Regions from separate parts of the Homo sapiens genome. Here region 1 is linked to region 2. Evidence: fine-mapped expression QTL. Tissue or cell type: monocytes. Region 2 holds a variant in brackets; the other region holds the start of a gene. All regions are shown on one strand. Distances are from middle to middle. Region 1 holds the start of HPGD (15-hydroxyprostaglandin dehydrogenase). Region 2 has its middle 47 kb from the start of MIR4276.

Evidence for each region.
Region 1: it holds the start of HPGD, and the variant in region 2 is fine-mapped to the expression of HPGD in monocytes (Schmiedel 2018, PIP 0.95).

The regions. Positions count from the first base shown.
Region 1 is chr4:174,520,020-174,525,406 of GRCh38, forward strand. HPGD (15-hydroxyprostaglandin dehydrogenase) reads right to left here and starts at 2,469. Exons shown (of 7, transcript NM_000860.6): 1 at 2,340-2,469; 2 at 1,925-2,048. The coding sequence starts at 2,432. It overlaps LOC105377548 (a long non-coding RNA gene), which reads left to right and starts at 2,594. Exons shown (of 7, transcript XR_007058492.1): 1 at 2,594-3,110; 2 at 3,366-3,402.
Region 2 is chr4:174,468,500-174,473,886 of GRCh38, forward strand. No RefSeq gene overlaps it. Among named protein-coding and RNA genes, the nearest start is that of MIR4276, 47 kb to the left of the region's middle. The variant CT/C (reference allele first, on the strand shown) is at 3,069.

The DNA of each region.
Region 1 (5,387 bases), 52 kb after region 2:
AAATGTCCCCCAGTATTTTTTTTTTCTCCTTCCATTCTGAGTATGTTCTAACTCTTCATAACTCCACAGAAACAACCTTCACCTTTTGGAAAATGAGGGTGTTAAATATGTATGTCTAATTGCCGCTTTAATTTTCTTTCCTCATTCTGTTCTCCACCGTATTCCTTATACTCTGCCCTTACCAATGTATAGTATACCATCTTGTTTTCTGACATCCCATTGAATTCCAGGCTCAAGCAACAGACAGTCTACCTCTTGCTGACATTTATATGCTATGGTACTCTTTGTAACTTACCTAAACTCTCTTGGCTGTGATTTGTTCATTTGGAAAATAAGTTATGTTTAGATTATCTCCAAGAAACTTTTCATCTCATATTTTTATAATTTCCACACTGTCTAAACAATTTTAAAAGTTATAGGCAACATTAAATCCTGAAACTGGAAGAATCAATGTCATGTTTCCTTTAGATGCAAGCAAATGCTCATGTCCAGACAACATGTGGATTTCTCATGACCAACATGCCTTCCCGGGTCACTTATGTGTCTGAGTATTTTTCCTCCTCCACAATCATTTATCCTTAAGGAATGAGTTTATAGCCAAGGTATTAATTTTAAATACTGGGAAAAAAACAATTGTAGTTAAATGTCATTTATGAAACTATATAAATTGAGACAGAAATGGCTTTCAGATTGTTTATACTGTTCCTTATGCCATCAGCATGAATGTTGAGATCTGACCTGGCTCTATCCTTGATCCAAAATATCATGTGCAATCAACATAATTGTCCTCTGGTACAATATGTTCCTCTTGCATTGTGTTTACAAATCTGTTCTGCTCATGCTTGTCATCTGTGTTATAGGTCTTTATTAGCATTTTCAGATTTCAGTTATGTAATTTCCTTTACAATTTCTCTTAACTGTTGGTACACCACTTCCTTCTAACACGTCAGTTCATTTTCATTCTCTTACAGAATATTTTAAAATTTTAAAATAAATGTACATTTGATGTCCCTTTAAGAACAGGAGCACTGGAATAAGATTTGCAAAAGTTTTCAGACCCCTTGATTAAAAAGTGCCTTACAATTTACTCAGTCTCTTTGAATAAAACTTTGTGAAATACAAATATTTTACTTTTCTAGTTTTTCTCCAGAATTTTTGTTTCCTGTAAGTTTATTGGGGCACTCTCAAGTTCTCCAATAGATGTACAAAAAAAAAAAAAACAGCTTTATAATCAAAGCTGTTTATTGTGTATGCCAATATTGTCCCTGATACTTCACAAGTAGATTGGTCTATTTTAAGTGAGTAGCCGGAAACAGGAAAGCATTGAGGAAAGGCTGATAGAGATGTTTCTACTACAATTCTAACATTGTATACTTTATTATGATTACTATTATTATTATTTTAAAGTACTGTCTCATTGGGGAAAAAGCCGGAGAAAACATATGGTCAAAAGCATCTAGCACTTCTGTGATGATGCTCCTTGAACTTGTATTCTGATATGTTTAAACGAAAAACACTGCCACATTTGATTGTCATTGGACTCCAGCTTTCTGGGAGAAGTTGTTTGTCAACAGTACCTTACTTAACCTACTTTAATTTTCCAAGTTTTGTCTGCAATTTCAATCATTTAATAATTACTGCAGCAGCACTGTCTTTGAATACATAAAGGAATTTTGATTACATTAATGCTGCCAAATGACTACAATAAAAGGATTTCTCCAGCAGTCTTGCCTTTCTTTCGGTTTTACAGCTATTGGGCTGTCAGAAGGAAACGTATCAGTCCAAACTGTCTTTTGGAGCTTCAAGGTAGCTGCTCTCGAGGAGGCAGCGGAGGCGGCACCCAGGGCCCCCTGGCCGGGCTGCCTTCAGGTTGTTGCTTGTTGAGAGCACGTTCCCAGTTGACAGATTGATTCCCCTGTCTTACCTCTCAGTTGTTGCTGGTCAGCCACATCGCACTGGATGAACAGAGTCTTCTGAGGTTCAAACTGCTCATCCAGGGCAGCTTTACACTGTACACCTGCTTCAAGATTCCAATCCACCAGCGCTACCTATAGACAAGAGGAGAGGAATCGCGGGCCTGCGCAGCTCACGAAATAGACGGACAAACAATAAACACACAAGAGGCTCCCCTCCTGGACCTGAAATTTGGCAATTAGGTTTGGGTTCCCTCCCAGCCACTTCTGAGGTGTGCTCACAGCCTCAGCTTCAGCAAATTTTGGAAGTGGCAAAGTGGGCACGCCGGGCGCGGCCTCCCTGTCTCCGCCAGTGCACCTCGGGCGGCGGGGCGAGTCTCGGAGTGTGTGGGCAGAGAAATTTCCGCGGCTGGGCGCCGGGCTTACCTTGGCGCCCTTAAGCAGCAGCGCCTCTGCAAAGGCTCTGCCTATGCCCTGAGCCGCGCCGGTCACCAGCGCCACTTTGCCGTTCACGTGCATGGTGCAGCCACTGCTGGGGCGGGCGGTGGGCGAGCTCCGCGTCTCCGCGCGGCCGCGGCTTTTATGCCCCCCTGCGCGCGCGCGCGTGCAGCCCGGCGGGGCGCTCCCCTGCCAGTGGGCGGGGAGGAAACTGTCAAGCCAGCGCCCGCCGGGGAACCCACGACTGTGTCACCTGCCCCCTGAGCGTTCTGGAGCGCCAAGCTTCGCGATCTTTGCCTTCCGGACTCGCAGACCGGCTCAAAGCCTCCCCTCAGCCTCTGGCTCCGTGATTGGCAGGCAGCTGACAGAAGAAAAGTTAAAAGGTTATTTCTGAAGAAGAGTTTCCTTCAGTGCCCTAAAGACCAACTGGATAGAAGGAGAGCGGAGCAGAGGCTTGGAAGCTTGGATCCCTCCTCCTGCACTCCCTCCCGGCCCCGACTCCGGAACAAAACAAGCAAACAATAAAGCAAACTTGTTGCTCTTTTGTCTCAAAGTTTTGTGTGAGTTCCCATCTCGTAATCAGTGGGGTTGAGGGTGACGGGGAGCAGAAGTAACTAATATCATTGTGTTTTCTTAGTTACATTTTGGACAAATTTTTACGGATACTGGAGATGAGAAGTGGACTCTGCTCTGTCCTGAAAACCTGGAATCATAACATTTCATGGCTAGGACTAGAGTGTCCTTGGCGCTGTGTTTCTGGTCAGTGTCAATTGTGTGTCATATTGAGATGCCCCCACAAAAACTGTCATCATCAACAGGCGCTCCAGAGCCGCTGGTAGCCTACCAAATTGTTGGCTCAATGGAATGCTTACTTGTTGAAATACACCAACTTTGGAAGCTCTGAGTCAAGTTTGGGACAGAGGTTCCTTGCTCTCCAGGAACTCCAGGGCTAGCTGTATGCGGACTTGCATAAATAACAAGGGCTATTCCACTGACTTTGTCTCTTTTTCTCAGGTTGTCAGCGGCAGGCTGCAATTTTAATTCTGTAAACGTAAGTGGTTGGCTTTTTTTTTTTTTTTTTTTTTTTAATCTTGAGACAAGATCTCGCTCTGTCTGTTTGGCTAGAATGCAGTGGCATAATCCCAGCTCGCTGCAACCTCAATCTCCAGGGCTCAAGCGACCCTCCCACCTTGGACTCCCAAAGAGTGCTAAGATTACAGGCATGAGCCACTATGCCCAGCTGGCATTTATTTTCTTAAAGAAAAAAAAAATCTAAATACTTGGGGGAAATGGGAGTTGAGCAAAAGACTGACACTAACAGCAGAATGAATCATTTTTATATCTTCTTTACCTTCTTTACTGGGAAAGGTGGCTGGCTCAGCAGGGAAGGAGTGTATGAGGAGACTGTGTAAAATGTGTCTTGTCGCGTTGTTGGTAAGCCGCTAAGCAAATGTCTTTAACATTAATTTGAAATTAGGTCTTGACAAAATCTTGAGAAATTAAAACAGGAAAATAGATATTTGTACTCTAGGATGATAATTAAAATTGTAATATGAAGAGTAAATTGAGGGGTCATATTGAAAGGGAATAATAGTAGAAGACAAAAAGAAAACAAGGAACCAAACAAAACTTCAGCTCCTCTAATGGCATGCACAGAACATAGAAGTTTCTGATGAAGGAACTGGCAAAAAAGACAGAAAAGGAACTGCTGGGGTAAAATGGCAACATGCTGGGAGAACACAGGTTTGCAGCTCTTGTGGGAGAAATACTTTCAAGAAGAAAGAAGTAGTTAATAATGCAAAATACTCAGGTGAGCACCAGGGAATAAAGGATGGAGAAATATTTTGAATTTTTCAGGACAATATTTAGTGTGAGTAAATTTAGAAGGCACAAAAACTGAACAGCTGAAATGATCTGTGAGAAGATAGATATTGTCATGGACTGAAGACCAAGGTTACATGGAAAGAGAAATGGACTGGATAATAGTTGAAAAGATTAGACAGCAAACATGTTTTTCTTTTAAGAAAAGATAAGAAGATTGATTGAGGTCAAAGTGCAATGAGTCAAGGATAGTGACAACTGGAAGAACAGGAAGCAGTTTGGCGGTGGCGGATAGGTGAGGCACAAGGACGTCAGCACTGGATTCAGACAAACCGGGTTTGGATCTTGTGTCTGCTACTGACCAGCTGTGTAACCTTGGGCAATTTGCTTCAACTCTGGGTCTCAGATTCCTTATTATAAAGTAAGCTTTTCTAAAAAAAAAAAAAAAGGTGAAAATTAAAATAGGTGAAGCATATTAAACACTATTACAGAGCCTGCCACAAAGTATTAATACATTAATATTAGTCCCAACATATTACTTCTGAAATATTAATGAATAATAAATGTGAGATAGAGAAAAATGTGAAGAATAGGTTTTTTTAGTAGATAGCAAGGACTGAGGTCTAGAGAAAACTTAGTACCCCTTCATCCCTTTCCCTCCTCTCAATTTCCACTGCCACTGTCCAGATTCATATTTTCTCCTATGATAGCAAACAGCAGTTAGCTTCTCATTACCTCCAAATACGCCCCCCACTTTTTTTCGCATTGTGAGATGCTTTTATTACAGTGAATTAAACTGCTTACCAAACAGTGATCTTTGTAAGGAAGGATTTTTTCCCTTTTTAGTTGACATGGAATAACTGTGCATATTTATGTGATCTATATATACAGAGTGATATATATGTACGGAGTGATATATCAATACATGTATACAATGTATAGTGACAAAATCAGGATATTTGATTATTAGCATATTTATTAACTCAAATGTTTATCATTGCTTGTGTTGTGTACATTCAAAATCCTCTCTTCTGGCTTTTAGAACCTATACACTAAATTATTGTTAACCATATTCACCTTACATGTGTTCTAGAAAACACTAGAACTTATCCTCTAATCTAGCTGTTTCTTCGTATCCGTAAACCAGCCTCTCCCTATACACATCTCCCCTTACCCTTCCCAGCCTCTGATAACCACAATTCTACTCTCTACTTC
Region 2 (5,387 bases):
CACATGAACGGGAAGCATGGACCAGGACATTAATGAACTAACATTTTGCCACAACATCTAGATAACATGAACGTTGGATTTATCCAACGTTAGGTGGCTACCGTGAATCAGAGGCTGCAGGGAGGCACCCAGGCGGCATTAGGTTGGGGCAACAGCAGAAATAGCAAACTAGGGCCATATGGTTCTGGAAGCATTCCTACCAAAATTCTTCAGATAGTAAATGGAATGGAGAAACCAAATGTTAGAAAAAATTAGAAAGAAATCAAAATAGGGAGAGAATACCATAATGATCCTTTATGATTAAGGAAATATTACTATGAGTTGTATTTACTTTGTGTAAACTGAACTGTGATGACATTATATAGCACTGTAGAATAGAAACAAAGTTTAAGGAGCTCTCAAGGTCATTCGGTCCAACTTCTCACTTTTACAGATATGTTGTATATAGAATCTCTAATATGTGACTAGCTGGCATCGGCCTCAGTCATCTCAATCACAGCAATTTTTTCTGTCAATGAAAACTACAAAGGCATTTCATTTGGAGTATCTTAATTCTGAAGGTACCTTCAACTACATCCCTTTCACCTTTACTCATTCATAGTTCTGTTTACAGGAGGCAACTATCTATTCTATTTCCTTATGACAATTTCAAATATTTGTAGTTTTGTGTGTTTTTCTCCTGTTGTCGTTACGATAAAATCCAAACTCCAGACTGGCAAAAGCCTCTAAAATGTGATACTTAGACTCAAATACAGTATCCCAGAAATCATCTAATCAATAAAAGAATGAACATATAAACTTCCATGTTTGGGAAATTTATATTTCTTTTAAGACAGCCTAGTGTGCCTTACCCACTTCATTAGACACTTCATTCATCCATTCAGTAAATATTTACTTGATGCACACCGTATTCCACGCACTGTTTTATATGCTGTGATTAGGTAAAGAACAGAAACAAGTAAGGTCTTTGTTTTTATAGAGCTTATGTTATGGTAGAGTAGAAAAAAACATAATGAAGAAAAAAACGACTAACATAAATTCAGAGGATCAGTGCTATGAAGCTGAAAACAAAATAAGGGTGGTGTGATAACCTAGAATGGGATAACTAACTGATTAATTTAGAGTGGAGGACGTGGGATGCCATTTGAAGGACATAATATTAGAGTCAGGCTATTCTTGGAAATATATGGAAAAGAGCCATCTAGACAGAGTGAAGAGTGAGTGCAAAGTTCCTAAAGGGCAGATGCTTGGTACATTCAAGGTGCAGAGAAGCTAGTGAAGCTAGAGTGAAGTCAGGAAGGAGGGGGGTGAAAATAGGTGAAATCAGAGATGGAGTATTTGATCTTATTTGCAACCAGAAACCACTGGAGGGTAGTAAAGAAGAGTGTGGGACGATCTGACCTTCAATGTGATCCTTGATGCAACTGCTGTTGACTCTTGATCAATGAGGGACTGGGGCACTGACTCCCTGAGGCAAGGTTGAAAATCCACATAACACTTTTGACTCCCGGCTAATTTAACTACCAATAGCCTACTGTTGACCAAAAGCCTTCTTGATAACAAATAGTCAACACATACTTTGTATATTGTATGTATTATACACTGTATTCTTGCAATAAAGTAAGTTAGAGAAAAGAAAATGTTAAGAAAATCCTAAGGAAGAGAAATATATTTACTATTCATTAAGTGGAAGTGGATCATCACAAGGTCTTCAGCCTCTTCATCTTCATGTTGAGTAGGCTGAGGAGGAGGAGGAAGAGGAGGGACTGGTCTTGCTGTCTCAGGGGTGGCAGAGGTGGAAGAGATGGAGGAGGTGGAAGGGGAGCAGGAGATGCAGGCACACCCAGTGTAACTTTTATTGAAAAAAATCCCTGTGTGAGTGTGCCCATGCAGTTCAAACCGTTTTCGTTCAAGGGTCAACCGTATTTGTTTTCTATTGGGTCTACTCATTATATACTCTTTGCTTTATTTCCTCCCTTGGACTCATCAATTAAATATTATTATTTAACTCTCTTCTAAATTACCTTATTAGTTTTACATTATTTACCTTCTGTATTACATTAGGCTTTCTTGACCTACTAATATCTAATTTTAATTTTAATTAGTGTTTTTTTTTTTTGACAGTCTCACTTTGTTGCCTAGGCTAAAGTGCAGTGGTGCAATCTCCGCTCACTGCAACGTCTGCCTCCCAGGTTCAAGCAATTCTACTGCCTCAGCCACCTCAGTAGCTGGGATTACAGGTGCATGCCACTGTGTCCAGCTAATTTATGTATTTTTAGTAGAGACGAGGTTTCACCATGTCGATCAGGCTGGTCTCAAACTTCTGACCTCAGGTGATCCACCTACCTTGGCCTCCCAGAGTGCTGGAATTACAGGGGTGAGCCACTGTGGTTTTTTTTAACCAGATCTTTGAAAACACAAACACCTTAGAACACTTTAACTCTGTTTGATCTCACCTGCCTTTCATGCTTTTTTGTATTTTAATTCTACATATGTTTTAAATACTAGAAGTCATTATTTTCCTGACTTAATATAGTAAATATTCATTTTGATTTCCTCACTCCTTTTCCATTACCCTTCAAATTACCCTGAATTTCTCTTCCTTCATCTGGAAGATTCTTTTCCCCTCCTGAAAAATTCTTTACTTGTATTCCTTTGAATCTGAATCTATTTATGATGAATTTTCTGATTTTCTTTTTTCCTGGAAATGCCATTAACACACCCTCTTTGATTTTATAAGATTTTTCTTAACTCAATATAGAACTTACATTCAGTTTTTATTTGTTTGGAACCTTAAGATAGTTTTCATTGTGTTCTGATTTATGTAGTTTCTGCTAAGAAATTAGCGATCAATTTTATTTTTGCTTCTTGTATAGACAGTTTGCCTCCCCCTGCTCCCCTTGGCAGGTTTTAAGATTTCTTCTGGTCACTGGCTTTTACTTCTATTTGGTGTGCTCTTTTTCTTCTTCTTGCCATTTGTATTGCTTCTTGAATCAGCAGCTTAAAATCTGATTACTTTTGAACATTTGTTGAATATTAGTTACAAATAATGCTTCTGCTTTAATTTC[CT/C]TTTTTTTTTTTTTTTTTTGGTAGGTCTCTAATTACACCTATGTTAGACTGTTTTGGGTTTTTTTTGTTGTTTTTTTCAGTTTTTTGTTTTTTTGAGATGGAGTCTCACTTTGTTTCCCAGGCTGGAGTGCAGCTGCACGATCGTGGCTCACTACAACCTCCGCCTCCCAGGTTCAAGCACTTCTCCTTCCTCAGCCTTTTTTTGTGGAGACAGGGTTTCACCTTGTTGGCCGGGCTAGTCTCAAACTTCTGACCTCAGATGATCCACCTGCCTTGGCCTCCTAAAATGCTGGGATTACAGGCGTGAGCCACCACGCCCGGCTTGTTAGACTGTTTTTAAAGTCCATATCTCTCTTATTCTCTTTTCTGTATTTTTCCATTCCCCTTTCTCTTTTTGTTTCAATCTAAATATTTTCTACTGGCCTATTTTCTATTCGGAAATCAGAGTCGCAAATCCTCTCTCAAGCTGTGTTGAATCTCTTATTCTATTGTTTTCTTAATTTCAATTTTTTTTTTCATTTCTAAAACTGTTCTTCATTGTTTCTAGTTTTTTGGAAAAATTCCCAATCTTTTCTTCTAATTTTTGAACATATCAATCACAATGATTTTAAAATCTGTTTTTGATAATTCCTGTATCAATCCCGTAGGGGCTGTCTTTTTTTTTTTTTCATTTAATTATTATTTTTTTCCTGTCTCTTTATGTGTCTGCTAATTCTTAATTAAATGCTAGAAATTGTATGAAGAATTGTATATGCTCTGGCTTATAATTTTTCTTCAGAGAGGGGTTCATTAGCTGATGGTGGATAGGTAAAGTAGTAGCCTGTCAGCTAAATCTGATTAAGATGAAGCTCATTTGAGCCTAGGTTTTCATTTTTGTAAGGCCTGCTCTCTATTTCTGGTTTGCCTTTTTGTGTGTGTGTGAAATACAGCCTTTTTGGAGCCTGAAATGAAACGCTGGGCCATTTCTTTGTATTCTACCTACTTGCTGATTCTTGCTAATAATTTATTAGAAGTTTTAAAAACTTTTATACATTGATAGTTTTGTTCCCAATGTTTACACTGCATTTTCCTTTCACTGCCTGATTGTACTGGATTTCACCAGTAAGTATGATGATTGCAATATGTTTTTTGGTGGATGTTCTATATGAGACTAAGAAATCTCCCTTCTATTATTAGTTTTTAATACTTTTGTTGTTGTTTTTGAAAATGTATGTTGAATCTTATCAACATCCAAAAGCTTTTTCTACATATATTGATATGATCATACAATTTTTCTTCTGTAGTCTGTTAATATGATAATTTTCACTGATTAAATTTGAGTGTGAGACCAAATTCAATTACTATAACTCCACTTGTTTATGACTTTTTCTTATTTTTGATATAAAAGAACTTCTTTTTCCAATTTATTTAGGAATTTTATATTTATGTTCATTATGGCAAAAGTGAGATTGGCCTATACCTTTTTTTTTCCTTTGTAATAATGCCTTTTCAGTTTTTGAAATCACAGTTATAAGTTGGCAGTGGTCTCTTTCTCTGTACTCTGGGAGAGCCAGAGTAAATTTGGAATTGTTTCATCTTTAAATATTTGGTAGAATTCACCACTGAAACAACCATCTGGACAAGGAATGTTCTTTATGAGAAGGTTTTTAATTATAAATTAAATAAATTGATGAGTTTGCAATCTCTTTAGTAGTTATCTGACTAATCCAATTTTTCTGTTTCTCCTTGTGTCGGTTTTGGTAAATTGTTTACTTCTAGGTATTTGCTTATTTTATATAAATAATCAAATTGACTCATAAATTTAATAAAATAATTGAACTTTTTTTATTGTCTGTATGACCCATTTTTATTCTTGAAATTATTTATTCATAATTCACCTTTCTTTGCTAATAGTGTGAGATGTTTTACTCTAGTTTCATCTAATTTTGACCCCATCAACAGGGTATTTCTGAGCAAAATAAAAAAAAAGTAACAGCTGTAGTTAATAGTCATTTGATAAATTCTAATCTATTGGTATTGATTTCAGTAAGAAACAAATGGCACTCTCAAACTGGGCAATTTTAAGTTAATTTATTAAAACAATTATTTATAAAGTTATCTGCAGGACTCAGGGAAATAGCAGAAATAGCACAGGACCCTGGGACTAGTAACTGCAGGGAGGTGTTACCACTTCTGGACCCGGAGGAGCAAAGGGGGGAATGATAACTAGAACACAATGTGAGTAGCTGTGCAAATGACTGCCTGATAGATGCTGAGATAACCAAACCAGGAATGAAGTCAAGGAAAAATATCTTGATCTCGCTTTTCTCTAGATCTCA